4 linked regions of the Homo sapiens genome follow. The protein of the gene in region 1 interacts with the protein of each later gene in a pairwise test. Each region holds a gene or a part of one and is shown in the gene's direction. Other genes may lie near its edges.

Evidence for each region.
Region 2: the proteins of GIGYF1 (region 1) and FAM124B interact in binary tests that used the Homo sapiens proteins (3 or more experiments, as listed by UniProt).
Region 3: the proteins of GIGYF1 (region 1) and RBM22 interact in binary tests that used the Homo sapiens proteins (3 or more experiments, as listed by UniProt).
Region 4: the proteins of GIGYF1 (region 1) and SNRPA interact in binary tests that used the Homo sapiens proteins (3 or more experiments, as listed by UniProt).

The regions. Positions count from the first base shown.
Region 1 is NC_000007.14:100,684,173-100,691,277, reverse strand, and holds part of GIGYF1 (GRB10-interacting GYF protein 1), read left to right. Parts: intron 1-1,722; 5' UTR 1,723-2,686; intron 2,687-2,762; 5' UTR 2,763-2,827; intron 2,828-2,970; 5' UTR 2,971-3,039; coding exon 3,040-3,074; intron 3,075-3,167; coding exon 3,168-3,297; intron 3,298-3,394; coding exon 3,395-3,490; intron 3,491-3,661; coding exon 3,662-3,773; intron 3,774-3,871; coding exon 3,872-3,980; intron 3,981-4,231; coding exon 4,232-4,272; intron 4,273-4,458; coding exon 4,459-4,629; intron 4,630-4,844; coding exon 4,845-5,098; intron 5,099-5,198; coding exon 5,199-5,304; intron 5,305-5,796; coding exon 5,797-5,934; intron 5,935-6,131; coding exon 6,132-6,229; intron 6,230-6,383; coding exon 6,384-6,555; intron 6,556-6,661; coding exon 6,662-6,828; intron 6,829-6,937; exon of another isoform or gene 6,938-6,940; coding exon 6,941-7,041; intron 7,042-7,105. UniProt on the Homo sapiens protein: May act cooperatively with GRB10 to regulate tyrosine kinase receptor signaling. May increase IGF1 receptor phosphorylation under IGF1 stimulation as well as phosphorylation of IRS1 and SHC1.
Region 2 is NC_000002.12:224,392,053-224,399,157, reverse strand, and holds part of FAM124B (protein FAM124B), read left to right. Parts: intron 1-7,105.
Region 3 is NC_000005.10:150,690,958-150,698,062, reverse strand, and holds part of RBM22 (pre-mRNA-splicing factor RBM22), read left to right. Parts: intron 1-1,171; coding exon 1,172-1,272; intron 1,273-1,357; coding exon 1,358-1,530; intron 1,531-2,356; coding exon 2,357-2,557; intron 2,558-3,822; coding exon 3,823-3,987; intron 3,988-4,755; coding exon 4,756-4,844; intron 4,845-5,036; coding exon 5,037-5,168; intron 5,169-6,181; coding exon 6,182-6,312; 3' UTR 6,313-7,105. UniProt on the Homo sapiens protein: Required for pre-mRNA splicing as component of the activated spliceosome. Involved in the first step of pre-mRNA splicing.
Region 4 is NC_000019.10:40,754,167-40,761,271, forward strand, and holds part of SNRPA (U1 small nuclear ribonucleoprotein A), read left to right. Parts: intron 1-3,165; coding exon 3,166-3,338; intron 3,339-5,264; coding exon 5,265-5,444; intron 5,445-7,105. UniProt on the Homo sapiens protein: Component of the spliceosomal U1 snRNP, which is essential for recognition of the pre-mRNA 5' splice-site and the subsequent assembly of the spliceosome. U1 snRNP is the first snRNP to interact with pre-mRNA.

The DNA.
Region 1 (7,105 bases):
ATAGCTCTTGGCTGTGGGGCTGCCCTGTGCACCCCCTGCCCAGTGGTGACAACCCAGAATGTCTCTAGACTTGGCCAAGAGCCCCCTGAGGAGCAGAGGTGCCCCCAGTCCAGAACCTGTTGGAGGGTGGGAGCCCCATGGTGGCCTGCAGGTGTGCCACTAGTTCCTTTAGTCCAAGGAAGGGGCCAGGCACCATCAGCTTCCGGCACCAGACCCTGCTGTGGGGGTGCCTAGAGAGTTAACCTCACTCTCCTGGTTTCTTCCCAAGAAGGCGGGTGGCATGGGCTTTTTCCTGCTCTGGGCCTGCTCTCTCCCCTGTCTTGGTGTCGCTGTCCTCAGTCTGCATGAACCATTCCCCCTTTGTGTGCCCCTTGCAGCCAAGACACAGCCAGGATGGGTGACTTGAGCCGGAGGCACCTAGGAGAGCTGCCCTTGCTGCGCCTGGCAGGGGGCAGTGTGAGGCCATCGCTTTAAATTTTTTTTTTTTTTTTTTTTTGAGACAGAGTCTTGCTCTGTTGCCCAGGCTGGAGTGCAGGGGCGCAATCTCAGCTCACTGCAACCTCCGCCTCCTGGGTTCAAGCGATTCTCCTGCCTCAGCCTCCCGAGTAGCTGGGATTAGAGGCACCTACCACCAGGACTGGCTAATTTTTGTATTTTTAGTAGAGACAGGGTTTTGCCACGTTGGCCAGGCTGGTCTCAAACTCCTGACCTCAGGTGATCTGGCTGCCTTGGCCTCCCAAAGTGCTGGGATTACAGGCATGAACCACCACGCCTGGCCACTTTTTCTTTTTTAAAAAATGTTTAGAATTGTTTCTGTAGAGTCGTGGTCTTGTTCTGTTACTCAGGCTGGTCTCGGACTCCTCTCTTCAAGCCTCCCACAGTGCTGGGATTATAGGCATAAGCCATTGTGCTGGCCAGGTGGTCCCTTTTCTGTTCTACTCTCTCCCACCCTCATGCCTCCAGGATGAGCTTCTGGCCTTCTAGAAGGAATGAACTGGAGGAGGCCCAAAATGGCCTCTCCTGAGGCTGATTTGAAGGAATGTGGGGTGTTTTTCTTGGAGTGGGGAAAACTTAGGTATGCGGTGGTTATCTCCAGATACCTTTTGTTCCCTAAAGCTTTTTTAAAAAAATGATTATTGTGGTAAAATATACAACAAAATTTGGAGACTTTAACTGTCTCTAATTGTGCCATTCTGTGTTACTAAGTACACTCACATTGGTGTGCGGCCATGACCACCAGCGGCCCCAGGATCCCCTCCTCAGTTGAGGCTCTGGACCCTTCAGCAACAGCTCCCTGTCCCCTCAGCCCCTGGTGGCTGCCCTTCTACCTTCCTCCCTCAATGAGTGACTGCTCTAGAGACCTCATGAAAGAGAAGTAAGGGGTAGCTCTCCTTTTTTGGCTGGTGTGTTTCTCTTAGCGTGATGTCCTCAAGGCTCATCCAGTCCCCAGATTGCTCTAGGTGGCCACCTGCAGTCAGTGACAGGCTGGTGGCTTTTCATGTCATGGAACACACCACCACTGGAGCATCCAGCCGAGGCAGAGGAAGGAGAGGTCCCAGGGGAGGCCAGCCTGGCCTTGGGTTGCCTCTGAGCCCGGTGTTTCCCCCTGGAGTGCCTGGACTCTGAGCAGGCCTCGGCTTGTCATGGGCTGCTGGCTCAGCTGGGGCTGATGGCCTTTCCTCCTCAGCACCCTGGTTGAACCCGCTTCCTCTTCTTTCCCAGACTGTGGCGTCCTGGAGTTGATGGGAGCTGCAGCACCAAGCCGGGCCAGCCTCCCTCCCAGCCAGTGACAACACCGCAGCACCTGGACCCCGCCCACCCGCTTGAGTCCTCTGCCTGGGGCCCCAGGGATGCGCCTCCTCCTGAAAGTCCCCTCCATCCTCCCTTAGAGGAACAGGCTGCCGCCGCGCCCCCATCAGCCTCCATTGCCCTGACCTTATTTCCACCTGATGGTGCCAGAGGCTGCTTCCCAGCTGGTATCCTGAGATCCTCGTTCCCTTGGTGGCTTGGTTGTTTAAGCCTCCATTATTGATTGGGGGCGGTGGTCTGGGTGTGATTCCTGTGGGGGAAACCAGCCCGAGGTGCCTTGGCTCAGGCTTGCCTGCCTGGAGTCCTTGTCGTGTACCCGTCTGTGGCCCTAGAGTCACCTCCTGCTCCTTTTCACTGGGTTTCTCCCCAGACCAAGCCCCTGGATTTGAGCTTCTGAGCAGCCAACTGATTTTTTTCATGAGGGAAAGAATTTTGCTCCTAGATTTATTTCTAATCCTTTTCTCCGTAACTGACCTTTTCTCTGTAAGCTATTTGTGGCTCTAGTGGGTTTTTGTTTGCTTGCTTGTTTTTGTTTTATCTTTGCCCTGAACGTCCATCCTGGCCTCGGCTGCCTCCCTCCCCGAGTTCTTCACTACACCTCCTGTCTCAGCCTCCCAGAGAGGGTGGCGAGGGTGCTGATGCCCAGAGACACCATCCGGCGAATGGACCTCTCCTGTCATGCGGGGCAGGGCAGGGCTGCCGGCAGAGCCATGTCCTGAACCCTCCCTCCTCCCCCCTGCTCTCCTTAAGGGTCTTTCCCAGATGTGAAGGTCCCTCCCAGGCTCTACTGAGGTCAGACCAATTCCCAGTGGCTTGGGTACCCTCGTTCACTCCAGCACCAGCCCCTGCCCTCCTTCTTCCCGGGCCAGGCTGCCAGGTGAGCCCCGGGCCAAGGGTGGTTGCCCTGCTGAGGCCGAAAGGACTCGAGCTTCCCATCTCCTCGCCTCCCCCAGGTCTTTCACCGTCTGGACTCATCTCTGGGTAACTCATGGTGTGAGTGGCCACGTGGCTGGCTCAGGTGAGTCCTTTTAGACCCCAGGTGACCCACCAGCTAGTCCGGGGCCCATTGTTGTGCCCACTAGGATGTCCCCCATGGTGTCCTCCCTGCGCTTTAAAGTTCTCCTTCGTGTGCTGTTCTTCATGGCCCCTGTTCCCCCACAGGTGTTTGGACAGTGAACGCCAGGTCCCCTCCTCCCCACCCCCGGCCTCTCAAACACGCCCAGCCCCACGATGGCAGCAGAGACACTCAACTTTGGGCCTGAGTGGTGAGTCACTTGTGCCTCGGCTGCCGTGGAGATTCGAGAAAGCACAGTCAGGCTGCCCTGACCTCTGTCTTCTTCTCTCTGTGTTGTGTCCAGGCTCAGGGCCCTGTCCGGGGGCGGCAGCGTGGCCTCCCCACCCCCGTCCCCTGCCATGCCCAAATACAAGCTGGCTGACTACCGTTATGGGCGAGAGGAAATGCTGGCTCTCTACGTCAAGGAGAACAAGGTGGGTGCGTGGGCGAGGGGGGTTGGCGGTGGTGGCCTCTGCCTGTGGAGGGGATCTGGCAGCATGTGGTGTCTTGGCTGTCCCAACCCACTGCCAGGTCCCGGAAGAGCTGCAGGACAAGGAGTTCGCCGCGGTGCTGCAGGACGAGCCACTGCAGCCCCTGGCTCTGGAGCCGCTGACTGAGGAGGAACAGGTGGGACCGGGCCAGGAGCTGAGGCTGCGGGAGCCTGGGAGGGGAGGCCATGGGTTGGGTTAGGAGGAGAGGGGCCAGCGCTGAGGAGACAGGCGGGGAGGGTGCTGTGGGGTGGGGGTGGAGGTGGTTGGGTGCCTGGGTCCTCACTCCCGCCCCTGGCTCCCTCCTCAGAGAAACTTCTCCCTGTCAGTGAACAGCGTGGCTGTGCTGAGGCTGATGGGGAAAGGGGCTGGCCCCCCCCTGGCTGGCACCTCCCGAGGCAGGGGCAGCACGCGGAGCCGAGGTAGAGGGGTGATGGCGTGTCCTGGGGACGGGCAGATCTGGGCCCCTGACTTCGAGAACGTGCAGCAGGTTTCATTGTGCGTCTGGCCTCTTCTCTAGGCCGCGGCCGTGGTGACAGCTGCTTTTACCAAAGAAGCATCGAAGAAGGCGATGGGGCCTTTGGACGAAGCCCCCGGGAAATCCAGCGCAGCCAGAGCTGGGATGACAGGTGGGGCGGGGAGGGGGCATGGCGCAGAGCCGGGCAGGCCAGGGAGGGGAGGCCTGGGCCCTGTCGCTAGAGGGTAACAGAGGCCCACCAGATAAGCCCTGTCCGAGATCCCGGTGCTCCTGACCCCTGGTTTCGTTTGTCCCCTTCCTCCCTCCACTGCCTCAGGGCACAGTGGACAAGGCATGGGGCGGTTGCACAGGGTGGCAGGGGAGGCTGTACTGTTTCTGACCCACACGTTTCCCCTGCTGCAGAGGCGAGAGGCGGTTTGAGAAGTCAGCAAGGCGGGATGGAGGTACGAGGCTGCTGAGGGCGGCGGCCGGGGCGGCAGGGAGGACCAAGATGGGTGGCCCAGTCTGGGGGTGCTTATTTCGGAGGTGTTGGGGGCAGGAGGGCCTGGAGCTGGCCCCCCCAACGTTTCTTGAGGGTCCAGGCACCACGCTGCCTTTCTAATAACTGCCCCTGTCTTCCCGTCTCCCAGCACGATGTGGCTTTGAGGAGGGAGGGGCTGGCCCAAGGAAGGAGCACGCCCGCTCAGACAGCGAGAACTGGCGCTCCCTACGGGAGGAACAGGAGGAGGAGGAGGAGGGCAGCTGGAGGCTCGGAGCAGGGCCCCGGCGAGACGGCGACCGCTGGCGCTCCGCCAGCCCTGGTGAGATTGGGGCCTGGTAGCATTGGCGGGGGCAGTGGGGAGCAGGAACTGTAATGAGAGGGTGGGCTCCTGTAGCCACGGGGAGGGAGCAGAGGCTGGCTGGTGTGGGAGTGGCCGGGACAGCAGCCCTGGAGGTGCTCCGTGAGCTGCAGCAGAGGGGGCCGCTGGCTTCGCTTGGGTACCCACTCTTCTTCTCCCTGACTTTTCCTGTGCAGATGGTGGTCCCCGCTCTGCTGGCTGGCGGGAACATGGGGAACGGCGGCGCAAGTTTGAATTTGATTTGCGAGGGGATCGAGGAGGGTGTGGTGAAGAGGAGGGGCGGGGAGGGGGAGGCAGCTCTCACCTGCGGCGGTGCCGAGCGCCTGAAGGCTTTGAGGAGGACAAGGATGGGCTCCCAGAGTGGTGCCTGGACGATGAGGATGAAGAAATGGGCACCTTTGATGCCTCTGGGGCCTTCTTGCCTCTCAAGGTATCTGTGAGGAGGCGAGGGTGGGAACCTGCCCTTCCGGGGTCCTCTTCCTCCCCACCCACCCCAGCTGTTCTCTGCTCCCCACCCCGGCCCCATGCAGAAGGGCCCCAAGGAGCCCATTCCTGAGGAGCAGGAGCTGGACTTCCAAGGGTTGGAGGAGGAGGAGGAACCTTCCGAAGGGCTAGAGGAGGAAGGGCCTGAGGCAGGTGAGCCGCGGGGTGCCCAGCGGGCCTGGGGCTGGGCCGGGCAGGCACTGGTGTTCTTTGCCGGGCTGGGCATTGGCTGCCCACCTACCTGTAGAATCAGGCTACTTAGATCTGGAAGAAGAGTGCTGAGAGGTGGGGAGGAACCAGGGGGTAGCAGAGCCATGTCTTCAAGGCAGTGTACCAGATAGAAATCAGGCGTAATCAAAATGACCTTTGAAAGTCCCTTGAAGAAGCTGTAGAACCTGGAGTGACGTCTGCGGTGTTGTGTGGTGTTGTGCGATGTTGTGATATGTTCCTGCCGCGTCTGGCAGCGTGGAGGCGAGGGTCAGGGCACCGCATTCCCTCTGCCATTAGTTGAGTTGACCCAAGTGAAGTGGTGGACTCGGCCTAAGGGAGTGTGACCCGCGGTTCCAGCCACACTCAAGGGCTTGTGCTAACTCGCGTGGCAGGCCCAGCCCTTGGTTCTGAACTCTGGCCATCTCCCTCTTCTAGGTGGGAAAGAGCTGACCCCACTGCCTCCTCAGGAGGAGAAGTCCAGCTCCCCATCCCCACTGCCCACCCTGGGCCCACTCTGGGGGACAAACGGGGATGGGGACGAAACTGCAGAGAAAGAGCCCCCAGCGGCCGAAGGTAGGAAGGGAGGATGGCCTACCTCCCGGGTGCGCTGGGGCTGTGGGAGAAAGTGCTCCCCACTCGTGGGGGTGGGCACACAGGGCATTCACATTGAGGAGCCATGGCAAGAGCGTGGTGTTCTGGAGTGAGAGTAGGCGAAAGCTATCTTGTCTCCTCCCCGCCCTTCTTTCCACCTCCTATCTCATGCCTTCCAGATGATATTCGGGGGATCCAGCTGAGTCCCGGGGTGGGCTCCTCTGCTGGCCCACCCGGAGATCTGGAGGATGATGAAGGCTTGAAGCACCTGCAGCAGGTGTGGGGGCCTGAGAAAGCGGGAGGGACCCTTCCCACTTCTGACCTGACCTGCTTGGCCCCAGCCCCGGCCCCAGCTCAAGCTCCATCCCCATCCCCATCCTGATGTTGCTGAGATTGGCAGCTGAGCCTTTCTTCTTTTTCTGGGCATCCAGGAGGCGGAGAAGCTGGTGGCCTCCCTGCAGGACAGCTCCTTGGAGGAGGAGCAGTTCACGGCTGCCATGCAGACCCAGGGCCTGCGCCACTCTGCAGCCGCCACTGCCCTCCCGCTCAGCCATGGGGCTGCCCGGAAGTGGTTCTACAAGGACCCACAGGGCGAGATCCAAGGTACCTGTGTGGGATGGGAGGGCTGCTCAAGGCCGTTCTGGTTCAGGGTGTCTCTGGCATACCCTGTGACCCCAGTGGTTCTCCCGCTCCCTCGCTCCCTGTCCAGGCCCCTTCACGACACAGGAGATGGCAGAGTGGTTCCAGGCCGGCTACTTTTCCATGTCACTGCTGGTGAAGCGGGGCTGCGATGAGGGCTTCCAGCCGCTGGGCGAGGTGATCAAGATGTGGGGCCGCGTGCCCTTTGCCCCAGGGCCCTCACCTCCCCCACTGCTGGTGAGCCGCTTCTCCCCTGCATGGAGGGACAGGGTGTGAGGGGTGCCGGCAGGAGTCCAGCAGAGTCCCCTCCTCCCTGCTGGGGGCACTGGCCGAGCTCTCACCTGAGCAGGGAAACATGGACCAGGAGCGGCTGAAGAAGCAACAGGAGCTGGCCGCGGCGGCCTTGTACCAGCAGCTGCAGCACCAGCAGTTTCTCCAGCTGGTCAGCAGGTATGGGGGGCCTGGGGTGGGCTGGGAGAAGGCCCGGCGCTGGCTCTGTGGCCCACCATCTCCA
Region 2 (7,105 bases), on another chromosome or scaffold:
TTTAAACAACTTAGTTACTTTGGAAAGTTGAGTCACATTTGGGGAGTGTAGAAGAGTTTTTTGGATAAAGAGAAACTCCATGAATTGTATGAAAAGAGCCCTCTTCCTCTCTGGATTGTCCCAGGAGCCTGGCCACTTCTCAGGTGTGAATGGGGCATCAGCCCCTCACTCTTTTGTTTTTGAGACAGAGTCTCTCTCTGTTGCTCAGGCTGGAGTGCAATGGTGTGATCTCAGCTCACTGCAACCTCTGCCTCCCGGGTTCAAGCAATTCTTGTGCCTCAGCTTTCCCAAGTGGCTGAGACTACAGGTGCCTGCCAACATGCCCAGCTAATTTTTGTATTTTTAGTGGAGATGGGGTTTCACTATGTTGCCCAGGCTGGTCTCAAACATCTGGCCTCAAGTGACCACCTGCCTCAGCCTCCCAAAGTGCTGGGATTATAGGCATGAGCTACCACGCCCAGCTGCCTCTCACTCTTGATAGCCCCCTTGGACATCACCTTTGTCCTGACCTCCAAACCTCAGAGACTTCTGCTTCCTCACTCCAAAACACGCTTTGATCTCCTCTTGTTAAGTCAATGAGTCTAAGCTTTTGCAAACAGAGTGAGAGATCGCCTTCTGGAAAATTCTGCTTCTGGTGTCATATAATAAAAGTGCCTGAGGAAAGTGTGTAAAGGCTCAGCCATAATCCAAAGACAACACATTGTAGCTCCTAGATAGCTTTTGATTCTTTGAATGGAGTGAATTTTTCAGGATAGAAAATTCTTGGGCGTGGTGGCTCAGGCCTGTAATACTAGCACTTTGGGAGGCTGAGGCAGGTGGATCACTTGAGGCCAGGAGCTTGAGACCAGCCTGGCCAACATGGTAAATCCCCCTGTCTACTGAAAATACAAAAACTAGCTGGGCATGATGGTGTGCACCCGTAGTCCCAGCTACTCGGGAGGCTGAAGCAGGAGAATCGCTTGAACCAGGGAGGCAGAGGATGCAGTGAGCCGAGATTGTGCCAGTGAACTCCAGCCTAGATGACAGAGCAAGACTCTGTGTATTAGTCTGTTTCACACTGCTGATAAAGACAGGCTGGAGACTGGGAAATTTACAAAAGAAAGAGGTTTAATTGGACTCACAGTTCCACGTGGCTTGGGAAGCCTCACAATCATGCAGAAGGCAAGGAGGAGCAGTCGCATCTTACATGGATGGCGGCAGACAAAGAGAGCTTGTGCAGAAAACTCTTGTTTTTAAAACCATCAGATATTGGGAGACTCATTTACTATGAGTGAATTAATTCACTGTTCACTCATGCCTTAAATAGCACCCCAGTCACCTCTTGAATGCTTTGCTGCTTAAAAATTTCTTCTGCCAGATACCCTAAATCATCTCCCTCAAGTTCAAAGTTCCACAAATCTCTAGGGCAGGGGCAAAATGCCGCCAGTTTCTTTGCTAAAACATAATGAGAGTCACCTTTGTTCCAGTTCCCAATAAGCTCCTCATCTCCATCTAAGACCACCTCAGCCTAGACCTTATTGTTCATATCACTATCAGCATTTTTGTCAAAGTCATTCAACAAATCTCTAGGAAGTTCCAAACTTTCCCACATTTTCCTGTCTTCTGAGCCCTCCAGACTGTTCCAACCTCTGCCTGTTACCCAGTTCCAAAGTCGCTTCCACATTTTCAGGTATCTGTTCAGCAATGCCCCACTCTACTGATACCAATTTACTCTATTAGTTTGTTTTCACGCTGCTGATAAAGACATACCCGAGACTGGGCAATTTACAAAAGAAGAGGTTTAATGAACTCATAGTTCCATGTGGCTGGGGAGGCCTCAAAATCATGGCGGAAGGCAAAGAGGAGCAAGTCACATCTTACATGGATAGCAGTAGGTGGCAAAGAGAGGGCTTGTGCAGAGAACTCTCATCTTTAAAACCATCAGATCTCATGAGACTCATTCTCTATCACGAGAACAGCACAGGAAAGACCCACTCCCATAATTCAATCACCTCCCACTGGGTTCCTCCCACGACACATGGGAATTGTGGCAGTTATAATTCAATATGAAATTTGGGTGAGGACACAGCCAAACCATATCACTCTGTTTCGAAAAGAAGAAAAGAGGAGAGAAGAGAAGAAAAGAAAAGAAAATCCAGCCTAAACTTCCTTGGGTCCTGGGGAGAGGGGCTGGGTAGCGAGTCTGGCTTCTGTAAGTGAGTAGTCCAGGCCTTACACAGTGTGCTCAGGATCCAGATCCCAGCTCTGTTATCACTGTCTTGGCCCTATCCTCAGCCAGGCATCCGCCAGGGTCGCCAGCTGGCTGCTAGCAGCTCTGAGGGTTACATCCTTCATGTGGATTCCAAGTGCCTTGCCCCACCATGGCGCAACAAAATGTCTGGACTTCAGTTAGACCAACTAGGATCAGATTCTCTTCTCTAAATCAATTATTACGTGCAGGAAAGTGAGATTATATGGATCAGTTTAGCCCCGAGGCAAAGGCTCTGGCTTCTACCCCTAGATGCTGTGTGGTGTTCTGTGGGACTTTTAGGGAAGGTTGTGGGTCTCCAGAGAAGATCAGGGCGGAGGAGACAAATACAGAGTGGTCCCAAATGGCTGATGTTCAGCAAAAGTAAGAAAATTATACCTATTAAAGGAAGAACCATAACCACAAACTAACCTCTCTGCAGACCATCCCTCCACATGGCCAGGATGGAGGCGTGTGTGCAGAAGACCTGAGTGTGAGGGGAGCTAGGCCGAGGAGGGGCAGTGAGAAAGCTTTCCTGAGTAGCAATGCCCAGATCTGCGTGAGCTGGGTGGCCCAGGAGGAATTAGCCAGTTGGAGAAGGGAGCAAGGGTGTCTCAAACAGGTGACCGTGGGTGACGATGTTGGTGTGGTGCTGCTTAGCAGGCCATGCTCAGCAAACTTCCTGAGGTTTCATGTGGCTGGAGTGAAGGGAGGGGGAGTCAGGGGAAGAGGATGGGCAGGTGGCCTGAGGCTAGATCAGTGGGAATGTGGTCAGCCACTGGAATGTAAGTACCAAGAGCGGGGGGACTTTTTGGGCTCACTCCTGTGAACCTAGAACCTAAGGTCAGTGTCTGGCACATGGTAGGCAAAAACATCCTTCTACAAATGAACCCTGGCTAAGTAGCTTCTATTCTATCCTTGGTGAAATGAGCAGTCACTGATGAGTCCTATGAATGGAACTGACATGGATTATTTGTGTTATGAGGGTCAAATGAGAGAATGTACATGGTGGTGCTTGGTAAAGTAGAAGCTCCTGGAGACCATGTAACTGCGGTGCAATTGTGATCTGTGCATGTGAGAGGCTGTCAGCTGTCTCTGCCAGCGCGCCCAGTGAGCAATGCGTTTTCCACATGACCTCTTGCCATTGCAGACAGTCTGATGCCTCTCAGAGTCTAGAATGGGTGGTTTTGATGACAGCGATATGAGCATATCAAATAGATGTTCAGTAAATGAATGTATGAGTACATGAGAAGGCAAGTCCATGTTTATTCATTCCTCAGAACTTTGTTGAGTTCTTGCTCTGGGCCAGACATTGTTTTTCCTTTGGCAGTTTTAATTCTGCTGTCTCAATTCTTAGTGGGTGCAAAATGATAGTGGGTTCAACCTTCCCTTTATTCGTTCAAACAGTCCCTCTGCTTTTCTCCCTGTGCTTTTGCCTCTGGTGGTAGTGACAGTGTCAGTGTGTTCTGGGGGAAGGTAGCATGGGTGATGATGTCCGCCTCTTTTTTTAAACCTCCTGCAACTTAAACTGTGCCCTCAGTCAAATTAGCTATTTTGTCAAATCAACCACATGCTGCAGTATCTCTAGTCAACTACTGCTGGCTTTCAGCTTTCCACAGCTGAGACCCGTGTCCAAAGTTGTATTTTTTGTACTTTTTATAGATTTTTTTTCAATTTTTTGCATTATGGCTCTTCTCCCCTGATTCACCTGCTGATGCATTCATCTCCTGCCCTCCTCCTGGCAGGGGCAATCCAAGGGTAGAGTCCATGACTTTGGTGTCAGGCTCTGGCAGACTCTAAATTCCAGGTCACTGAGTTAGCATTGGTGATCTTCTCATTCTGTTTGATGTACAGTAGGCAAACTTTATAAATTAAATGATAAACCTCCCTCAAAGCCACTTGAAACGCTCAGCAAGGTCTATATTTCATGGCCCTGTGGGAGATGTGACAGCCATGATCTTGTTAGCCTTTGGGTGGGTGTTCTGTGTGGTATCACACTGCCCTGGTGGTCTAATGAGGAGCTGGACCCTCCTGCAAGCGCCTGCAGTACCAGGCAGCCTGCAGGAAATGCACTGTAGAGCTGCAGCCACCCACCTTGTGTGTAGGGAAGGAGAAGGTGAAATTGACTGAGGATGTCAAGTAACATGGAGGAAGTGTGACTTGGGGGATTGACTGAATGGGCTGTAGCAAAGTATAGGGCTGGAGAGTTCAAAGGAGTTTAGAGAATTTTTTGTGCACTGAAAATGGGTGCAGGAGGACACAAAATGGGATTTGAAGAAATCCATTTATTACGGTGTTTAGAGAAGGGGCAGACATGCTCATACCTATAATATATAATTTAGGACCATAATCCTGTTAGCATCAAATAGGACAGGTTGGAAGGGGGCTTGACTGACCACTTCAGAGGGGACTTCAGTTTTCCAGTCAAAGCCGGTGCAGTTTTGAAATAGGGAACTCATAATGGAAATAGGAGGTTAAATTGCATGGGTAGACTTGACTGAATTTGGCAGTAATTGGACATGGAGGGTGAAGAAGAGGAAGGTGATGATGAGTCTGGACACATTGGGCTTGAAGTGCTTGCAGGTCTTTCAAATGAAGAGATTCCATGGTCAGGTGGTCTCTGAGGGCTGGAACTCAGGAGGGGGCATGGGCTAGGGGCATAGGTGGAGTTGGTGGCTGAAGCCCTGGAAAGGATCAACATTACCAAGGAAGAGAGTGTAGAGAGAGAAGAGGTAAAGAGAGTGCCTGGAAAATGCGTGCACTTCCGGAGGAGAGGGAAGAAGAACCAGTGAGAGACGCTGAGAAGAAGCAACCACAAAGCCAGGAGGACGAGGAGATTGTGGTGTCATGGAAGTCAATGTCGCTTGGTGGCTTTCAGTCCCTAAGATGTGGCTTCTCAGGTGTGCTACAGCAGGTCCTTCAGGTTCTGTCCTGGTCTCCTCACTGGGCCCCCAGTTGCTTGTGTGTTGCCATTGCCCCTGGAGAGATCAGCACCTGCTGCAGGCCCTGTGTCCTCCACCAGTAACTGCTGCTACCACCACTCCGGGCTTATGGAACCGTCCCCAAACACTGCTGAGACCAAGCTGTAATTTCAACAAGATCTTTCTGAAGAGTTGAGGACAAAGAGGTGGGGAAAAACCCCCCAAAGAATTCTAGGCCAGAAGAATAACTTACAAGTACTTCTAGATGTCGCTATTCTCAGAGCTCCCAGGCAAGCTATGGCCTTGAGGTCCCTCCCAGGTCTCCTCCAAGTCTTCTTTACCCACTTCTCCTGGAGGTGCTCCAGGCCAAACTCACACAGTGAAGGAGGATGGTTTTCTCCCTTCTCTCTGAGGTCCACCTTCCAGGTCTTCTTTCCTTGATAAGGGTGACTGCTTCCCAAGTTGACTAAATGGGAAAGGTCACACACACCTCGCCTCCCACCACCATTGTTTGATGTTCAGTAGGAAAACTTTATAAATTACAAGATAAAACCTCCCTGGAAGCTAGAGAGGTTTTAGAATAGGGTGGTGTCCTATTCTTGCAACCTGGGCAGGACAGATAAGTAACAGAACAAGAGTACAACATCAGTACAGTCTGGGGTGTACCATCTCAACAACACATGTTGGTTGCCGGCCATCCATTCTGGAGGCTTTTCCTGACTTAATCATAGGGATGAGCTGAAACTCATGCCTGTGTATCCTTCTTGCAGTCCTGGGGCCTCACCTCTGGATCTCCTGCAATCAGCACCTGAGCTAGAATCCACATAACTCTCCAAGACAGCCATGTGGGAGAAAGTCATGTGATTTTGAAAGATTTGGTTTCACACATATGCTCTCAATGTAGACCCATTTCTCAACTGAGACCCATTTCTCTAGACGAATGCACTGTCCTCTAGGACTTTCTGTGATGATGAAAATATTCTGTATCTGTGCTATTCGATACGGTGGCCATTCGCCACATGTGGCTACTGAGCATTAGAAATATGGCTGGTGAGACTGATGAACAGAATTATTAATTTTATTATATTTTAACAATTTAAATGGCCTTATGTGGTTGGTGACTGCTGTATTGGACTGCCCTGGCCTAGGTTATTTCTAAGGTCTCCTGCATCTTGAAGCTTCTGTAACTATACTGTGTATAGCCTCGTTGGTGACAAAACTTTATCTCTTATCTCATCTGTTGTTTTTTTTTTTTGAGACAGAGTCTTGGTCTGTTGCCCAGACTGAAGTGCAGTAGTGTGATCTCGGCTCATTGCAACCTCCCTCTCCCAGGCTCAAGCTATCCTCCTGCCTCAGTCTCTGGAGTAGCTGGGACTACAGATGTGCACCATCATGCCCGGCTAATTTTTGTATTTTTTGTAGAGACCGGGTTTTGCCATGTTGCCCAGGCTGGTCTCAAACTCCTGAGCTTAAGTGATCAGCCAGCCTCAGCATCCTAAAGTGCTGGGATTACAGGCATGAGCCACCATGCCTGGCCTATCTCATCTTTTTTCTTTGCTTTTTTAGAGAGAGGGTCTGATCCTGTCACCCAGGTTGGAGCATTAGTGGCATGATCATAGCTCACTGCAGCTTTAAACTCTTGGGTTCTAGTGATCTTCTCATTTCAGCCTCCTGAGTAGCTGAAACTCTAGGCGTGCATTACCATGCCTGGATAAGTTTTTAATGTTTTGTAGAGATGGGAGTCTTGCTATGTTGCCCAGTCTGAACTTGAACTCCTGGTCTCAAGGAATCTTCCTGCCTTGGCCTCAAAGTACTGTGATAACAGGCATGTGAGCCACCGTGCCAGCGCCAAATCCTCATCTCTTAAGGGTAGAATTCAGTTCAATTTTTGGAAACAATCAAAAGATATTTAGCATTAATTGTATTGAGTATGGTACATAGTTGAAGAGATTTTAAT
Region 3 (7,105 bases), on another chromosome or scaffold:
GCAACTTCGAACTCCTGGGCTCAAGGGATCCTCTTGCCTCTGCCTCCTGGTATACCACCACACCCAGTGCACGTGTGTGTGTGTGTCACTATTTTGCCCAGGCTGGTTTTGAGCTTCTGGCCTCAAGCAGTCCTCCCACCTTGGCCTCCCAGAGCCACTATAGCCAGCCTAATTGTGCTTTAGACTTTTATTTCAATTGTGTTGTTAGAACTGATATATTGCTACTGTTTCAGAGTAACTGCTTTTGGGAGTAATTTTTTTTTTAACCATAGGTGACTGTTTTTCAGAAAGATAATTTTTCAACAAGAGTTTTTACTATTAAAGGAAAGGGAAAAATATATGAGTTTATGTATGTTAAGTTCATTAGAGTTACTCTTCTAGTCAGAGTCCTGGCCACATTTTATGTAATATTATTTATATGTTTGTTAAGGAGGCGTCTGGTCCTGGAGTACAGTGACCCTTAGATGACTGTGACTATCCAGAGGATCTGTAAGACTAACCTAGAAAGAAACCACTTTTACATTTACTTTAAATAAATCATGTTGTAATAAAAACTAGGAGCTAATTTACAGGTTGAATATGACCATGGGCACAGTTTGTTCATCTAAAAATTTTCTTTTATAATTTTTTTGTTTTTTGTTTTTGAGACAGGGTGTCACTCTGTTGCCCAGGCTGGAGTGCAGTGGCATGGTCATGGCTCACTGCAGCCTTAACCTTTCCAAGCTCAGGTGATCCACCTCAGCCTCCTGGGTAGCTAGGACTACAGGTGCATACCACCACACCCAGCTAATTTTTGTATTTTTTGTAGAAATGGGGTTTCACCACGTTGACCAGGCTGGTCTCGAACTCCTGGACTCAAGCTATCTGTCAGCTCCAGCCTTGCAAAGTGCTAGGATTACAGGCATGAGCCACCACACCCAGCCTAAAAGATTTTTTCTAAAGCATTAATTTCATCAAATTTCCTGACAGTTCAGGAATTTGGACAATTTCTTAGCATGCTGTGTAGCAGAAGTAACCTGATGGTGCTAAAGAGTTTGAATAAAAACATAGTAAAGTCTCTGGTACTAAATAGGAAAGAGGAGAAGGGAAAGATGATGTATTCTGTGTGCATGGTTAGTATGGATATGTTTTAAAATACATCTGAGGTCTTTTTCCTCTTTTTTTGTACCAGGCCTGCCCATCCAGGTTCGTGACGCAGGATTGTCTTTTAAAGATGACATGCCAAAGTCAGATGTCAACAAAGAGTACTATACACAGAATATGGAGAGAGAGGTATGCTGCCACTTTTTGGATAAAAATCCTAATGAATTGACACAGTCTGTATAATTTATCTTTTGAATTTGTCATCCCCACTTAGATTTCTAACTCTGATGGAACACGGCCAGTTGGCATGCTGGGGAAAGCCACATCTACCAGTGACATGCTGCTCAAACTGGCCCGGACCACACCCTACTACAAAAGGAATCGACCCCACATTTGCTCCTTCTGGGTGAAAGGAGAGTGTAAGAGAGGAGAGGAATGTCCATACAGGCAAGAGCGAGCCTCATTTTCAGTATTTGCTTTCAGATGATTTCTCATCTAAGAAGTGGGAGGTCCTAACTTAAACTGTTTCTGCTTTAAAATCTAAAGGTCATACAACTAATGTGGTATACCTCATGTCTTAGAACTATGAAATTTAGAAGAGCATGAATAAATTGTAGTTTTTACTTACAATTGAGCCTTGGAAACTAAATTGCTATGCCATACAATATAGATGCTGACCCTAAACATTTCTGCCTGAGAAGTAAATCTTCACTGCCATGGTTTAAATGAGTTGACTCTCAATGTATAGTTGAAGTCAAAGTAAGGTCAGACTTCTAAAGGGTGTGTATGTTTTGGTTAAGACTGCCAAGCATCTGGATTAGGAGTTCTTAATTTGGGATTGGTTAACCCCACCCCCTAAAAAATAATGTATGTGCTTTCTCTGGGGCGAGGTTCATAGCTTTAATCAGATTCTCAGTGGAATACAGCACCCCAAATGTGTTAAGAATCATTGACCTAGAGAGGGGTAATCATGTGTCCCTTTCTGGGGGGCGGGAGGGGGTGGATCATGTCAAGAGTATTTATTTATAAGGAAAGTTTGGCATCCTAGATGGCCTAATGGCTTTTAGGAGGCTAGTAATTCCTTCCGTGATACAGTAAATCTCTTGGTATTAGGTCTATTTTGGTAATTATATTTTGGTAGAAACCATAGTTTCTAGTTCAAAAGGCACTTCAGAATATGTATCTAGGACTTTAATATGTAGCTACTCTTGGAAGATAATCATTTTTTCACCTTCGTTTCACCTTTATGCCTTGTTTTTTTCTTGAATCATAGACATGAGAAGCCTACAGATCCAGATGACCCCCTTGCTGATCAGAATATTAAAGACCGTTATTACGGAATCAATGATCCTGTAGCTGACAAGCTTCTAAAGCGGGCTTCAACAATGCCTCGGCTGGACCCACCAGAGGATAAAACTATCACCACACTATATGTTGGTGGTCTAGGTGATACCATTACTGAGACAGATTTAAGGTTTGTGGGTATAAGTTAGAGAGTTATTTTTGCCTTTAACTGCCCTGGAATAATTTATTTGCAAAAACTGCAAGAATGATCATTCTGTACAAAATACATTTTTCTGTAGTCTCTCTATTGTTAGTATCATGCTGACTGGAATTTTTGTAAAATTGTCCTTTATGGTGCCACAGTAATAATGTGCTTATGTGGCTGGGCACAGTGCCTCATGCCTGTAATCTCAACACTTTGGGAGGATCTCTTGAACCGAGGAGTTTGAGACCAGCCTGAGCAACATAGTGAGACCACATCTCTACTAAGAAATCAAAAAAATTAGCCGGGTGTGGTGGCATGTGCCTGTAGTCCCAGCTGTTTGGGAGGCTGAGGCAGGAGGATTGCTTGAGCTTGGGAGATCAAGGCTGCAGTGAGCTGTGATTGCACCACTGCACTCCAGCCTAAGCAACAGAGTGAGACCCTGTCTCAGAACCAAAGCTCAAAGAGTGCTTATCCATCCTGGCATATGGTAATAATGACATAGGATTCTATTTGACCTAACAGCCAAGTTTTAAAGGATGGCACGCATCCAAGTATGATGAATTATGTAGAGGAGGGAGAGCTTTGCGATGATAAAACTCTTGTGGTTTAAATTGTTGGTTTTTAAAGAGACTGGCATTTGATAAATTTGTGTTATTTTTGGCTTGTATTATGCTTGGCTAGATGAGACTTCTGGGCAGATAGTAATGGAAATTACCTCTTCCAAAGAGATAAAGTGGAGAAGAAACTCCTGTAAGTTTATAACCTGCCCTTGGTAGCCTGTCTCCATTAAACCCTATCTAAGTGAGCTAGACAACCCCCAGGGGTTGGCAGACTTTCGCTGTAAGAGGCTGGATGGTGAATATTTTAGGCATTGTGGGCCACATGCAGTCTCTGTCACGTATTCTTGTTTTAAACTTTCTTGGCTCATGGGCCTTGAGAGCTATGGTTTGCCAACCTCTTATCTAGGGTTTAGGGTCTTTAAAGAACCTATTAGAACCCCCTTTCCTCCATGGGAAAAAACCCTGAGATGTTTGAGAACCTTTATTTACTCATTATTTTTCTTTCCTTCTCTCAATCAGCAGCACCCACAGTAGGACAAGATATGGGGTGGAGACCTGCGGGTAGTTAGGCAGATAACCTTGGGGCCCACCTGCCTAGTGGTGTGTCAGTGAAAGTTAATCCATTTTCAGTCTCCTGGGTACATCTTTTTTAACTCCCACTTTCATTTTTCTCTGCCTGTTTCCCTTCAGAAATCATTTCTACCAGTTCGGAGAGATCCGGACGATCACTGTTGTGCAGAGACAGCAGTGTGCTTTCATCCAGTTTGCCACACGGCAGGCTGCAGAAGTGGCTGCTGAGAAGTCCTTTAATAAGTTGATTGTAAATGGCCGCAGACTGAATGTGAAATGGGGAAGGTGAGAATTAAACTATTTTTAAGTGACATTTTGCTTAGATTTTTAAGAAACTATTTCATTTTCTGGAGACTAGTAGGCTTTTGGTTAACAGGCTTAAATGAACAGGATCTTTAAAGAGATCTTTCAAAGATCACTCTCTATGTGATACTTGATTCCTGTGGATGTTGGGAGAACCCTGCTTTGGAAATGTATTCAGGGGGTTGGTGTATAATCTACTCCTTTGAAGGTTCATGTTTTTGTGACTAGCTATTATAGGCCAAGTATAATGCCAGGCCATGAAAGGTGAATTTTAGGGTTTATAAATGAATTAGACCTAGATTCTGCCCTTAGAGGCTGATTGTCCAGTGGAGAAGATAAAACAGGGAAGAATCGCTATTTTAAGTTTAAAAGTGATGATTGCATAAGAGAGACACAGGTGAAAGACCCAGTTCAAAGGGGGAACATGTCTCCAACTTGGAACCAGGGAAGTGATGGCTAATAGCAGCATCTGCCTTTGTGGAGCGCTCCCTATGTGGTAAGCACTGTGCTAAACACGTATGTGTTGCCTTTTCTGGTCCTTATGATAGTTCTAGCAGCTTTTGAACCCAGGTCTTTTCTGGTGTCAAAACCTTTGCTCTTGTTCACTGTGCACAGTGGCATTTATGGGAAAAGAGTGTGTGCTGAGGAGGAGGTAGAGCGAAGGAACTCCATTGGACTGGGGAATGTAAGAAGCAGAGGTGTGAGATAAGGTGGGCCAGAGTGCCGACTGTATGCATGTGTGTTTCCCAGATCCCAGGCAGCCAGAGGAAAAGAAAAAGAGAAAGATGGAACTACAGACTCTGGGATCAAACTAGAACCTGTTCCAGGATTGCCAGGAGGTGAGTGCAGACTCCCTGCTGACTTCAGAAGCTCTTTCTGCCCTGATGTTCCTATTTTGGAAGATGGGACCCAGGTCTGGTTCATGTTGCCGCTCTACTCTCCCAGTAGGACCTCTGAGAATGTAAAGGTGGTAGAAACAGCGTTGCACAATTGTTCTCCCCTCTATGTGTTGACTATTTTCTCTCCTCCAGCTCTTCCTCCTCCTCCTGCAGCAGAAGAAGAAGCCTCTGCCAACTACTTCAACTTGCCCCCAAGTGGTCCTCCAGCTGTGGTGAACATTGCTCTGCCACCGCCCCCTGGCATTGCTCCACCCCCACCCCCAGGTAACTTCCATCTTCCTTCTTAGCCCAGAGAAATCCTTGTGAAAGTTCTGTCTCATAAACCTCACCATCATGTTCAACACATCCAAATCCTGTGAGTTTGCTCTGTAGAAGTCTACCAGTAAAGTTGATCTGTTGGGATTTCTGAAATTTTTCTTTCTCCTGCTCTGCCGAGGAGAAGAAAGGGGCCAGTTTTCTAAAGATCCGCGTATATGTGTCAGCAGAGTAAGATTATTAGATTACAAAGATCTATCACCAATTTGTTCCCTTTTCTAAACTAAATGCTAATGGATGCCCTAGAGCACTATTGCCCAGTGTGGGCTGTGAGCGGGTGTCATTTTACAAAGTGTTTATCACCTGTCTGCCACAAGATCAGGAGCTTGTGCCAAAATGTAATCAGTGAACCCCTTCCTTCATTGAGAAAGTCTTGTTACCAAAAAAACTGTCAGATGAACTAAACTGTGCCTGGTCGTATAATTTACATTTTGACTCAAGCTCTTTGTCTTGAGTGGCCAGAAATAGGTGGAGGACTGGCACTTCGTATAGCACTGCTGTAGACAGTGTTAACAGTGGAAGGAAATCACAGGTAGCCAGTTCTCCTGTGGCAGAGAGCCCATACTCTGAAGAGAATCTGGTTTCTGAGCACCCTCCATTCTGGTGTCAAGCATTGAGGTTAATGATGACACAGTCTTTGCCATCAGCCTGATTTCTTTCTTATCTCCCAAATCCTGACTGAATCCTGTCTGGTAGGATTTGGCATGTTGGATACATAGCAGAGACTCAGATGACATACTAGGCGATACCTTGAGTGCTGTGGAGTTTTTTGGACTGTGGGGGAAAGGTTTCTAAAACCAAGGAAATAACAAGTGGAAGTAAGTTTGTGAACTGACATTTGCTTAAGCCCCGTGTCAACCTTGATTTATGTGTAGGTGGTTTTAACCTTAGCAAGATTGAGAGGTTTGAAAGGTTATCAAGGAAACTACCAGCCTAACACATTTGTTCTCTCGTATCTGCAGGTTTTGGGCCACACATGTTCCACCCAATGGGACCACCCCCTCCTTTCATGCGGGCTCCAGGACCAATCCACTATCCTTCTCAGGACCCTCAGAGGATGGGAGCTCATGCTGGAAAACACAGCAGCCCCTAGCACCTTGTCACCACTCTGGGGCTCTGTGGAAGAAAGGGCACTTAAAACTCCCAGTAAATCTTGGAATAAATATATTTTTCCTTCCCTTGTAGTTTCCATGGTAGCTGAATGTGCTCAGATGTGAGCAGTCAGAGACTGACAGCCATGCTTTCCTATACTTGTTCAAAGGATCGATGGACCGTAAATAAGCTGCCATTAACACATCTGGTTACTGCTGTAACATGACTAATAAAACCGAACGCCTGTTCCCCTTACCCGTGTGGGGGACACGCAGATGAGTGAATTGGAATGTCCAGCAGAGTTACCCTCCCAATTATATGTTCATTTTGTATATTTTTTGGTCGGGGGAAAAATTGACCTGCAGTAAAAAAACCTTTGACCATTTTTATGTCCATTGGATACTTTCCTTTTTATCATCTTAAAAAAAGATAACTAGTACTAATCATTGTAGTGGCCTAAGTGTGATTTAACTCTTGAAGTCACACCCTCCGAAAGATGAGTAGAAACCAGCACCAGCACAGCCCAGATCTTCTCTTTCCTCTCCTTTTCCTCATTTATTCCTAAAGGAATCTGACCATTTTACGTCTCTACGGCCCAAAAAAAGACAAAAATAAAAATTCCTTTTTATTCCTGTCAACTGGATGGAAACACAAATTTCATGGAGCTGTGTACCATCGAAGAAACCTGGTGTCTGGCATGAAATTACTGTAAAGAACTTCCTGTAAAACACGTTCTTTAACAAACTGAAATGAAAAGCATTGGAGCGTCTGAATGAAAGACGTGACCTCCTGCT
Region 4 (7,105 bases), on another chromosome or scaffold:
GATCTCAGCTCACTGCAACCTCCGCCTCCCGAATTCAAGTGATTCTCTGCCTCAGCCTCCTGAGTAGCTGGGATTCCAAGCACCTGCTACCACGCTTGGCTAATTTTTGTATTTTTAGTAGAGACGGGGTTTCACCATCTTGGCTATGCTGGTCTCGAACTCCTGAACTGTGATCCACCCGCCTCGGCCTCCCAAAGTGCTGGGATTACAGGTGTGAACCACCGCACCCGGCCAGAACCCTGGTTCTTTAGGACAGTGACAGCCCAGAGTAGTCAGGGCCATCAGGCAGGAAGCTTAGGCAGAGTGTTGAGGGCTGGGATTGGGAACTTAGAAAGACAGAGAGATCCATTCAGCTTCCAGGAAAAGGAGACATTTTGGAGAGCCTGCCAGGTACAGTAAGCAGTATTTATGTTACACTGAGGGAGAAGAGCATTCTTAACTTGGTCCAGCTTGTTCAGATGTTTAGGGTCAAAAGAGCCTGGCGTATTCTGAGTATTACAAGTAGTTTTGAGGCTTGTAAATCATGGGGAAACTTCCAGTGAGCTGTGCACTGGTGGCTCATGGCTGTGAGGTGTTGGACTTTGCCCTGAGGGTGTTGGGGAGCCAGACTGCTTCCCTGTCCTGGCTGCCTCCCTGGTGGAATATCCTCCCAGCTGTGGAGGGTAAATGCGAATGGGCGAGGGGAGGCTGGAGAGTAGAGAGAGGCCCAGAGTCCCGTGGAATGAGTGAAGTCTGAGCAAGATTCATGGGGATGGAGTACGGAGAGGAAAACCAGAAATGTCACCACCAGGAGAATTTTTGACTAATTGCTTAAAAACAACCTTGACTGCTGTCCCTGCCCCCACCCAGCCTACACATTTTCTTGCTTCTTTCCTAGCCTGGTATCTATTTTACAAGTGGCTTCTGCTTCAGCTTAGCTTTTTTTTTTGAGATGGAGTTTCGATTTGTCACCCAGGCTGGAGTGCAGTGGCGCAATCTCTGCTCACTGTAACTTTTGCCTCTCTGGTTCAAGCTATTCTCATGCCTCAGCCTCCCCAGTAGCTGGGATTACAAGCGCCCTCCACCACGCCTAGCTAATTTTTTTTCTTTTCTTTTTTTTTTTTTTTTTTTTTTTTGGCATTTTTAGTCAAGACGGGGTTTCACCGTCTTGGCCAGGCTGGTCTTGAACTCCTGACCTCACGTGATCTGCCTCAGCCTCCCAAAGTGCTGGAATTATAGGCATGAGCCACCATGCCTGGCCAGTTTTTATGAAGGTTGGAGTCCAGTGGTGAGGTCATGGCTCACTGCAACCTCTGCCTCCCAGGCTAGAGTGATCCTCCCACTTCAGCCTCCCAAGTAGCTATGACCACAAGGCATGCACCACTATGCCTGGCTAATTTTTGTATCTTTTGTAGAGACAGGGTTTCACCCTATTGCCCAGACTGGTCTTGAACTCTTGAGTGCAAAGGATCTGCCCACCTCGGCCTCCCAGAGTGCTGGGATTACAGGTGTGAGCCACCATGCTTGGCCATCTCAGCCATCTTCTTTGCATAAGACATTGGTGCCCTTTGCAGACCTGGGTGGTGAGAGGGAGTCCATCCTTGTTGAGCTTGAATCTCACTTGCTGTCAAGTGATGCCCTTTGCTGGTGAGATGTGGTGGTACCGGGTTCAGATGGAATACGTGGACTGGGCTCTGCCATACGCTTCCTTATGCCCTCCAGATTGATGCCCTGGGCCAGTGAGGAATCCTCTGAGAACCTGTTTCCAGTAAAATTGGGACAGTCATAGTTGCCACCTAATGGGTTTGTTGTGAGGAAGTGAAGTTACCTCCATAAAGCATTTGATGGGGGTGCGATGACTCATGCCTGTAATCCCAGCACTTTGGGGAAGCCAAGGCAGGAGGATCACTGGAGCCCAGGAGTTCAAGACCAACCTGGCCAACATAGGAGACTGTGTCTACAAAAAATAAAAAATTAGCCGTGCGTCGTGCTGCGTGCCTATGGTCCCAGCTCCTTGGGAGGCTGTGGTGGGAAGATTGCTTGAGCCTGGGAGGTCAGGCCTGTAGTAAGCTACCATCATGCCACTGAACTCCACCCTGAGCAGTAGAAGGAGATTCTGTCTTTAAAAAAAAAAAAAGGCACTTGATGGTATCTAGTCAAATGTTTGCAGCCAGGTGTGGTGGCACACTCCTGTAATCCCAGCACTTTCGGAGGCCAAGGTGGGCTAATTGCTGAAGCTCAGGAGTTCAAGACCAGCCTGGGCAACATAGCAAGACCCTGTCTCTGCACAAAATCCAGAAATTAGCTGGGCATGGTGGCATACACCTGTGGTCCCAGCTACTCCATAGGCTGAAGTGGGAGGACCGCTTGAGTCCGGGAGGTTGAGGCTACGGTGAGCCATGATCATGCCACTGCACTCCAGCCTGGGTGACAAAGTGAGACCTTGTCACCAAAAAAAAAAAAAAAAAATTGTGGTGGAGTCTGTGCTAGGCTTGGCATACTGCAGTAAACAAATGGGACAGGCTTATAGCTCCTCAGGCAAGATAGACAAGTTAACGTACCATGACAGGAGGTGGGAAATAGTCATGAAAGAAAAGGAAGTAGAGTAAGAATGACATGGGAAGAAATTTAGACGTCGTGGTCAGAGGTGGCAACATTTCCTCTGAGACTGGGTGACTAGAAGGAGGCCACCATGTAAACCTCAGGGGAGGGATGTTCCAGGTAAAGAGAGCAGCCAGTTCAAAGGCCCTGGGGCAAAATTGGTGTGTCAGACCTGGGGGCCAGTGTGGTTGGGAACTCAGGAGGGCGGTGGAATGTGGGCAGGGATGAGGTGGGGGAAATCTGCCAGGGCCACGTCATGCAGGCCCATGTCAGGGTGCTGGTGGCAGTGAAAAGAATCACTCATTTATCGAGTGTTTACTACGTGCCGGATGCTGTCCTGAGCACTTTGCATGTATGTGCACATGTTCATTATATAGCAGCTCTCTGTAAGCACATCTTACAGAAGAGTAGAAGAGTGTACTTGGCCACTTGAGTGGTTCCTGGCTGCTTCTGTGATTGTTAGGTCTTGAGAGATTATGGACCCGAGGCATTCTGGGTACCCCATCAATTGGCTGATGGTCTTCTATTTGGGCTGCGCTTCTTCTAAAAAGGGGAGCTCAAAGGTCTTTTTTTCCCCCACTGCAGAGCTAAAAAAGTCCCTGTACGCCATCTTCTCCCAGTTTGGCCAGATCCTGGATATCCTGGTATCACGGAGCCTGAAGATGAGGGGCCAGGCCTTTGTCATCTTCAAGGAGGTCAGCAGCGCCACCAACGCCCTGCGCTCCATGCAGGGTTTCCCTTTCTATGACAAACCTATGGTGAGCATTGCGGGTACGGAGGCTGTGTGGGTGTGTAAAATGTTATAGGAGACTGGGCGGGCCTGGATTAGAGGAGGGGATATTACGGTTCATTTGCCAAGGTGAGGCTGGACCAGGCTCCCACTGCACCTTGCCTCATTTAAAAATCTTTTCTTTGGCCGAGGGCGGTGGCTCACGTCTGTAATCCTGGCACTTTGGGAGGCCGAGGCAGGTGGATTACCTGAGCTCAGGAGTTTGCAGCCAGCCTGGGCAACACCGTGAAACCCTGTCTCTACTAAAATACAAAAATTAGCTCGGTGTGGCAGCATGCACCTGTAGTCCCAGCTACTCCTGTGGCTGAGGAAGGAGAATTGCTTGAACCCGGGAGGCAGAGATTGCAGTGAGCCGAGATCCTGCCACTGCACTCCAGCCTAGGCAACAGAGTGAGACTCTGTCTCAGAAAAAATAAATAAATAAATAAATAAATAAATAAATTATTTTGAGACAGAATCTTCCTCTGTTGCCCAGGCTGGAGTGCAGTGGTGCAATCTTGGCTCACTGCAACCTCCACCTCCCGGGTTCAAGTGATTCTCCTGCCTCAGCCTCCTGAGTAGCTGGGATTACAGGCACGTGCCACCATACCTGGCTGATTTTTTTATTTTTAGTAGAGACGGGGTTTCGCCATGTTGCCCAGGCTGGTCTCAAACTCCTGAGCTCAAGTGATCTGCCTGCCTCAGCCTCCCAAAGTGCTAGGATTACAGGCGTGAGCTACTGTGCCACACTAAGAATCTTTAACATACCTTCCCCTACTGAATAAGCACCATGAAAGAGGGGTTTTTGTCTATTTTGTTCATTGCTTTATTCCCAGAGCCTTGAATGGCGCCTGGCATCTGGCAGGTTCTCCTTAAACAGCTAAGTGAGTGAGATTGAACCTGGAAGACTGAAGTATTCTTGTGTGACAGGAAATCCCCCTGCACTGCACTCCTCTCCTAGCATTGTCTCCTCGGTCCTTTGGCCTGATGTTTATTGCTGTTCCAGCTTCCCTTAAAAATACCAACAGCCTTTCTACTGAACACTTGCTTACTGTGTGTCAGGTACTGTTCCAAGCACTTTAACTCATTTAGTCCTCACAACAGTCCTTTGAAGTGGGAAGTATCATAATCCCCATTTTTCAGACAAGGAAGTTAAGGCCAAGATATTTCTGTGTTTCTCAGTAAGCTCCTGATAAGGTCTGAATTTTTTTTTGTTTGTTTGTTTTTTGTTTTTTGTTTTTTGCTCTGTTGCCTGGGCTGGAGTGCAGTGGTGCCATCTCAGCTGACTGCAACCTTCGCCTCCTGGGTTCAAGCGATTCTTCTGCCTCAGCCTCTTGAGTAGCTGGGACTACAGGTGCGCACCACCATGCCCAGCTAATTTTTGTATTTTTGGTAGAAATGGGGTTTCCTGGCCAGGCGCAGTGGCTCATGCCTGTAATCCCAGCACTTTCGGAGGCCGAGGTGGGTGGATCACCTGAGGTCAGGAGTTCGAGACCAGCCTGGCCAACATGGTGAAACCCTGTCTCTACTAAAAGCACAAAAATTAGCCAGGCGTGGTGGTGGGCGCCTGTAATCCCAGCTAGTAGGGAGGCTGAGGCAGAATTGCTTGAACCCGGGAGGCAGAGGTTGCAGTCAGCTGAGATCTCATCACTGCACTCTAGCCTGGGTGACAGAGCAAGACAATGTCTCAAAAAAAAAAAAAAAAGAAAAGAAACAAAGAAATGGGGTTTTGCCATGTTGGCCAAGCTGGTCTCCACCTCCTGGCCTCAAGTGATCTGCTCGCTTTAGCCTCCCAAAGGGCTGGGATTACAGGCATGAGCCGCAGCACCTGGCCCCTGATAAAGGTCCAATTTTGAATCTTGGCAATTGGGCTCTGAATCCACGCTCTTAACCCGTTCTGCTCTCTGTTTGGTAGCGTATCCAGTATGCCAAGACCGACTCAGATATCATTGCCAAGATGAAAGGCACCTTCGTGGAGCGGGACCGCAAGCGGGAGAAGAGGAAGCCCAAGAGCCAGGAGACCCCGGCCACCAAGAAGGCTGTGCAAGGCGGGGGAGCCACCCCCGTGGTGGGGGCTGTCCAGGGGCCTGTCCCGGTAAGCCAGGTCCCGGAGACCAACCCTCCCACTGCCAGACCTTCCTCAGCCACATGGACTGGCTTTGGGACAGGGTGGGGAGAGTTCTCCCCTTGGGGCTTCAGACCCCTCCTTTCCATTTCTTTATAGAGATGTGTTTCTCTCTCTCTTTTGGGGGGTATTGAGCACCTAGATGATGCTATCTCCTTTCGAAACTCTTGTTCCCTCCTTGTGACTGTTTCTCAAGGTCTTTCTTCATGGCTATGACTTGGTTTCGCTCTCTCCGTGGCCTTGATTTTGTCGCCTGTGTCTTGTAACTCATTGTGCATGTAGAAAATCCAAGTGTCTACTAAGCAACTGTTAGGATTAATAAGTGAACTTAAATTTAGAAAGATCGCTGGATATAAAGGCAATATGGAAAAAAATTAGTTTTATTTATTTATTCATATTATGTTTTGAGACAGGGTCTCACTGTCACCCAGGTTGGAGTGCAGTGGCGCCATCACAGCTCACTACAACCTCCGCCTCCCAGGCTCAAGTGATACGCCTCAGCCTCCCTAGCAGCTGGAACTGTCAGTCCGTGCCACTCCACCCAGCTAACTTTTGCATTTTTTGTAGAGACGGGGCTTAGCCATATCACCCAGGCTAGTCTCAAACTCACTGTCTCAGCCTCCCAAAGTGCTAGGATTACATGCATGAGCCACCATGGCTGGCCCCCAGTTTTATTTTTATATGCCAGTAACAGACCAGTAGACTTCACATTGAAAAGTAGCACTGAGGGGTAAATCCAACAAAAGGTTTGCAGAACGACTACACTGAAATCACAGAATGTAGCTGGGAGAAATCAGAGACTCAGCAATGGATAGGAAGACTCAGTATTGTCAAGAGGTCAGTTCCATCCAAATTAATTGAAGATTCAACGTGATTGCAATCAAAATCCCACCAGGAATTTCGGTAAACACTGGACACTGATTGGCTCTTTCTAAATGTGTGGAAAGACAAGGCCAAGCCAGGCGAGGAGAATAAAGCACCAGGACCTGCATGACCAGGGGAAGCTCCAGCAACCAGGCCAGGCCCAATGGCTCATGCCTGTAATCCCAGCACTTTGGGAGGCCAAGATAGGAGGATTGCTTTAGGTCAGGAGTTCAAGACCAGCCTCTATAAAATAGCAAGACCTCATCTCTACAAAAAATAAAATAGAAAACTGGGCGTGGTGACTCATTCCTGTAGTCCCAGCTGCTCAGGAGGCTGAGCTGGGAGGATCGCTTGAGAACTGGAGGTCAAGGCTGCAGTGAACAGTGGTTTTGTCACTGCACTCCAGCCTGGGTAACAGAGTGAGACCTTGTCTCTTTTTTGTTTTGTTTTGTTTTCTTTTGTTTTTTTTCGGGAGGGAGTCTCAGTCAATCTGTCTCCCCAGGCTGGAATGCAGTCGTGCAATCTCGGCTCACTGCAACCTCTGCCTCTCAAGTTCAAGTGATCTTCTGCCTCAGCCTCCCAAGTAGCTGGATCACAGGCACATGCCACCACGTCCATGTGCAAAAAAAAAAAAAAAACCTGCAGCAACCAACCAGGATGATATACAGTTGGCAGAAGGGTAGGAAGACAGACCAAGGGGACAGGATGAAGAGTCTAGGTACAGCTACACTTGTATAATTACTTGATGTGTGATCGAGGTACCACTG